2 separate regions of the Homo sapiens genome follow, and region 2 is linked to region 1. The links come from fine-mapping of genetic effects on gene expression. A gene starts in region 1. The other region holds a variant in brackets. All regions are shown on one strand. Distances are between the middles of the regions.

Region 1 (2,914 bases):
CACGAGGTCAGCAGATCGAGACCATCCTCACTAACACGGTGAAACCCCGTCTCTACTAAAAAAATTAGCAGGGCGTGGTGGCGGGCGCCTCTAGTCCCAGCTACTCAGGAGGCTGAGGCAGGAGAATGGCAAACAAACAAACAAAAAACAAAAAATTAGAACTCTGAGGTGAAAAGCACACGCTATATAAACACACACAGGCTCATAAGAAAATAATTGGAATTAACTGGCTCAACTAAGTGATGCAGGTTTCAATAGGTGAAGGTATATCCCCCCACAATGAAACTTGATTTGGGCATTATATATGATAAGTGACTAGGCTGTACCGGTACGATCTTGCTGAGCCGAAAAAAGAAATGGAAGCATATATTTTCATAGTAAAATTACTTCTGTTGGAAAAATAACGACCAAAAAGCTCTTTGGTCAGAATTACGTGTTGGTAGTGTCAGCACCAAAAGCTGTAGGAGAGTCCAGCCTACGTGGTGTCTTCTGTACATAACCACGAACAAAAGCACTCCGAGCAGGGCATTGTATGAAAGTAGATTAAACAGAAAGAATGTAGTATTTCCAGAACTCTAATGGGTGTCTGTATAAGGGAAATCTACGGGAGTTAATAGCCAAATTTAAAGGCTACGGAGTCGTAAGTCAGATGTCTCCCCAGCCATGAAGGCAGCAGGATCCGTGTGTCTGTCTCCTCTCTGTCCCATCCTGCACCCCAGACTCGGGACAGGTCTTAGCATGGACAACGTCACTCAATAAATATATGCTCCTTCAATGCTTAGAGAATCAATAAATATATGCTACCTGAATGCTTAGATTATCAATAAATATATGCTACCTGAATGCTTAGATTATCAATAAATACATGCTACCTGAATGCTTAGAGAATACGTAAGCGTCTAAACCAGAAATACACACTTTTTATTCTCTGAAGAGGAAGACTGCTGGAGTATTCTTACACACAAAACAAGAAACTAAAACAGAATAGCCACAAAGACACTGTCAGTACAACTCGTAAGCTTGCTCTCCCGTCCTCAAAACACGAGGCAAAGGGAGACTCCGATCTCCAAGAGACCAAAGCCCTCCTCTCCTCTCCGACCAAACATCTAGAAACCCGCAGATTCAACAGGTGCCCCCGCTGCGGGGCAGGATGAAGCAGAGAGAGGGACAACTCAAGTTCTTGACCATTTCGCCAGGGGAGCTCCCCAAACTGAGGCAGAAATGCAAAAAGCGGGAAAGAGGAGAAGGAAAGAAAAAAAAATGTGTGTGTATATTATACACGCACGCGCACACACACATATAGTTAAGGAGGTGGGACAAAGCTATGGCAGTATTTGAAACATCTCTCCCTCTCCTCTTCTTGTCCTCACGCAGGGCTCGGGGACACGTAGGGCGCATCCCTGCGGGAGAAACGCTCGTTTGGGGCGATGCGGGGTCCCCGGCCCAGCCGCCCGCGCAGCCCCGTCCCGCCCCGCCGCTGTACCCAGCTTCAGGGCCGCCTTCTCCAGCACCCGCTGCAGCTTCTCCCGGGAGCGGCCCGCCACGGCCCAGGGCAGGCGGGAGCTCCGCTCCGGGTCCACCTGCTCCCGGGCCACCTCCTCGGTCACGAACTGGCCGGTGAAGCCAGACGCGCCGAACACCACCAGGTGGAAAGGCCTCTGCTCGGTCGCCATGACGAGTCCACAGCGAGCCCAGGCCCCGGGGCGGGTGGAGTCCACGGCGCCTGCGCCTCAGGCAGCGACCCCAGTACCCGGCGCAGCAACGGCCGCCGTCGCCGCAGCCAGCGCGCCGGGCTCCCTTCACCCCGCGCGCGCCGCCGCGCCAGGGCCGCGCCCACGCCCACGCCGCCTCGCGCGGGAGCCGCGGGTGAGCGGCTTGCTTGGGAGGCTTCCGACGGGAGGTTTCCTAGGGCGGTGGCCCTGGGGGCGAGTCCGCTTCCAAGCCTGGCAGGCGCGGACGGCGGCCCCTAATTCCGTGCGGCGGTTTGTTCTGCAGGGCTCTGGCCGCCCCGGGCAGCGCATCTTCTAGCCCTGCTGGAAGCTGGAGGCGGCAGCCGGTTGTCCTTGTTGCACGTGGGGGTGGAGCAAAGAGTGCGAGAAAATCTGCGGATGGCCTCGGGGATGGCCCACCCCGAGAACCCTTGAGCTTGCTTGCTTTCTTCCTTTCTTTCTTCCCTTTTTTCCCTTTCTTTTCTCTTTTCTGTTTTTGAGATGGAGTCTCACTCTGTCGCCCAGGCTGCAGCGCAGTGGCGCGATCTCGATTTACTGCAACCTTCGCCTCCTGGGTTCAAGCGATTCTGCCTCAGCCTCCCGAGTAGCTGGGATTACAGGGGAGCGCCCCCACGCCCTGCTAATTTTTGTGTTTTTAGTAGAGATGGGTTTTCACCTTGTTGGCCAGGCTGGTCTCGAACTCCTGACCTCAGGTGATCCACCCACCTCGGCCTCCCAAAGGGTCGGGATTACACGCATGAGCCACTGCACCCAGCCCATTCCTGATTTTTAAAAACTCTCATTAAAATAGGAATAAATGAATGCTTTTAAAAATTTTGAAATATATGTCTTGCAAAAAAGGTACAGCCAATAACAAATATGTACCCTCAACACAGCTTAAGAAAAATATTCCAGATAGCGAGGCTTCCAGGTATTCATTCCTGAACACATTTCCTTTTGCGTCCCCAAGACGGCCACTTGCCTGAATTTAGTGTTTATTATTCCTATTCCTATCTTTCTGCTTGTTATATATGTATGTATTTATAAATATTATAGTACCGTTTTGCATATTTTGAATATTTTGTAAATGTCAATCCTGCAGCTTTCTTATTTGGTCATGATGTCGTGAACTTATTCCCAAATGATTCAGAATAAAAAAAAATGTCTGTGATACGTGTGTGGAGAGAGGGAGAGAGAGAGAAATA
Region 2 (2,914 bases), 30 kb before region 1:
CCTAATACAATTTTATTAAATTGTATATTCATGTATGTTATGAAGCCAACGTACATGTAAACATCCAGGTCAAGAACTACAGGTAACCAGCAACTAAGAAGGCCCTCCTTCCGTCCTGCCTTTACAGTAATCAAGAAAAATTCTTTTCTTTAGAGTTTAATCACCTAAGAATTCATCCCTAAACAGTACAATTAGTTTTGCCTGTTTCTAAGCTCTACAGAAATGCAATCAAGCAAGATTTATTACTGAGTGTTTGGCTTCTTATGCTCAAAATTGTGATGTCAGGATTTACCACGTGTTGTAAGTAACTCCTACATTGCAGCTAGCCTTTTGACTTTCTTAATCGTGTGTTTTGGGAAACATTCTCAATTTTAAAAGTACACAAACGTATCACTTTTTCATTACATTTAATGCCTCTTTGTCTTTTTGTAAAAGCCATTCCCAACCGTGAGGGCATCCACAATCCATCTAAACTTGATTTTGGTACGGGGTGCAAAAGTATGAATCCAATTCCATTTTTTCTCCAAGTAGATACTCAATTGTCCCAGCAGCATCTACCGAAAAGCCCCCTTGCTGTTCCTGCCAACTTGAAGCCCGGAGGCCTGCTGGGAGGAGGAATTCTAAATGACAAGTATGCCTGGAAAGCTGTGGTCCAAGGCCGTTTTTGCCGTCAGCAGGATCTCCAGAACCAAAGGGAGGACACAGCTCTTCTTAAAACTGAAGGTATTTATGGCTGACATAAAATGAGATTTGATTTGGGCAGGAAATGCGCTTATGTGTACAAAGAATAATACTGACTCCTGGCAGCAAACCAAACAAAACCAGAGTAAGGTGGAGAAAGGTAACGTGTGCCCACGGAAACAGTGGCACAATGTGTGCCTAATTCCAAAGCAGCCGTCCTGCTTAGGCCACTAGTCACGGCGGCTCTGTGATGCTGTACTCCTCAAGGATTTGAACTAATGAAAAGTAAATAAATACCAGTAAAAGTGGATTTGTAAAAAGAAAAGAAAAATGATAGGAAAAGCCCCTTTACCATATGTCAAGGGTTTATGCTGACTTAATAACAGGTCTTGATCTCCAAGAGTGTCTTTCTGCCTTATTCTCTTTCAAGAATATCTTGCCTGTTCTCAGCCCTTTGAGTTTCCACATACATTTTAGAAACAGCTTGTC[C/A]AGATGCACATCGAAACAAAACAAACAAAAAAACCTGTTTGTGATTTTGATGGGAATTGCATGAGATTATAAACAAATTTGAAGAAAATTAACTACAAAATGGATTCATATTTTAATCCATGAATACGCTGGATCCTTCAATTTATGTCTTCTTTATGGTCCCTCAATAAAGGTTTACAGTTTTCTTCAAAGAAATCTTGTACACTTTCTATTACTTACTCTTAGGTACTTGATTTATTTAATGCTATCATAAATGGTGTTTTTTACAAAAATAATCACCTTCTAACTGTAGCTGGCATACAGAAATACAGCTGATTTTTATATTAATTTCATATCCAGGAACAATAAAAACTATTGTGGAAATAAATGAAACAGAATAGAAAAAATCAACAAAACTAAAAGTTGGTTCTTTGAAGAGGTCAACAAAACTGACACATTTTGGCTAGACAGACCAAAAAAAAGAGAAAGAAAACCCAAACTACTAAAATCAGGAATAAAAGAGGGAACATTATTACCAACCTTATAGAAATAAAAAGGAGTATAAAGGAATACTATGAAAAGTGTATGCCAACAAATTAGATAACCTAGGTGAAACGGACACATGTCTGCTCAGTGGATCACGACCCTCTCACACGGACCCCCTTAGAGTTGTAAGCCCTTAAAAGGGACAGGAATTGCTCACTCGCGGAGCTCGACTGCTGGAGACGTGAGTCTTGCCGAAGCTCCCAGCCGAATAAAGCCCTTCCTTCTTTAACTTGGTGTCTGAGGGGTTTTGTCTGCAGCTTATCCTGCTACAGCCTAGTTGAAAAAATTTATGTTCAAGTGCTATTTCTTTTGCGGCACTGAAAATTTACTTCTAACAAATTTGGGGGCCCGCCCGGGATTCCCATTCTCCTTTGGTGAAGGGTCTGGTCCTCTCCCATGAGGAGGCATGCCCCGCTGCCTTGTTGCAGTGGCCTCAGGGGTAAGGAATCAAGACCCACCGGGTGTGACAAATAAACCCGGACTCTCAGCAATGCAGAAAGAAACTGGCTGGCGACCTGGGGAAAGGGATCATCACACACCGCAGCGACCAGGTAACTCTGTGCACAGACCAAGGTAAGAAACACCACAGGAGCAGCCAAGCGTTTCCTCGGTGGTCGGGATACTCTGCGGGGGTTGAAAGTGTGTGTGAATGCGAGGAGCCTCCAGCAGGTGGGGCTAAAGGATAGGAGACACATCTCTAAGATGAGAGATGGGGCCTAACCAGGACCCAATATGGGAAATACCCCAAGCAAGACAGGGACCAAGAAGGACAAAGATAACAAGGATATTCCCCTTGAGTGCCCCCTAGGTCTCATGTTAAAATACTAGAAGGATAATGAAAGGACCAAAAACAAGAAAAAGCAGCTGCTGTCCCAGACCCTTCTCCTATCCCCATTGTCCCCCTCCTTATAACCCTGCCTCCTGGGAACTGTCCCAGGAGCCCACTCACTACGAGCGTTAAGTCCTCTTCCCTAAAAGGACTTCAGCGTGAGATAGAGCAATGTAAAAAGGATTTTCAGAACTTCCCTTTCCTCTCTTCTCGGGGGAAGAAAGAGCCACGATCCGTCGAACTGCTATGGGAGTCTTGGAACGTGAACACCCTTCTGGCCAAAACGTTCCTACAGCGGATCAAAAATTTCCCGCCCAAAACCTCAGGTGGGACAATAACAATGCAGCCCCTCAAGAAAATATGCAGGACCTTAGGGAATTGATAATAAAG

Alleles and levels. Positions count from the first base shown, and alleles are read on the strand shown. Sizes are in standard deviations (SD) of each study's normalised expression.
For the expression in prefrontal cortex of the gene that starts at base 1,687 in region 1, allele C in region 2 goes with a higher level than allele A (large effect, 1.0 SD a copy in GTEx).

The links.
Region 2: its variant is fine-mapped to the expression of SCCPDH in prefrontal cortex (GTEx, PIP 0.95).

What each region holds. Positions count from the first base shown.
Region 1 is chr1:246,723,182-246,726,095 of GRCh38, reverse strand. SCCPDH (saccharopine dehydrogenase (putative)) reads right to left here and starts at 1,687. Exons shown (of 12, transcript NM_016002.3): 1 at 1,484-1,687. The coding sequence starts at 1,673. RefSeq lists silencers at 1,334-1,543, 1,644-1,713, 1,754-1,883 and an enhancer at 2,094-2,253.
Region 2 is chr1:246,753,552-246,756,465 of GRCh38, reverse strand. The region is part of intron 5 of SCCPDH (saccharopine dehydrogenase (putative)); the gene reads right to left. It also overlaps the pseudogene RPL35AP6. Among named protein-coding and RNA genes, the nearest start is that of SCCPDH, 31 kb to the right of the region's middle. RefSeq lists a silencer at 2,294-2,444. The variant C/A (reference allele first, on the strand shown) is at 1,171.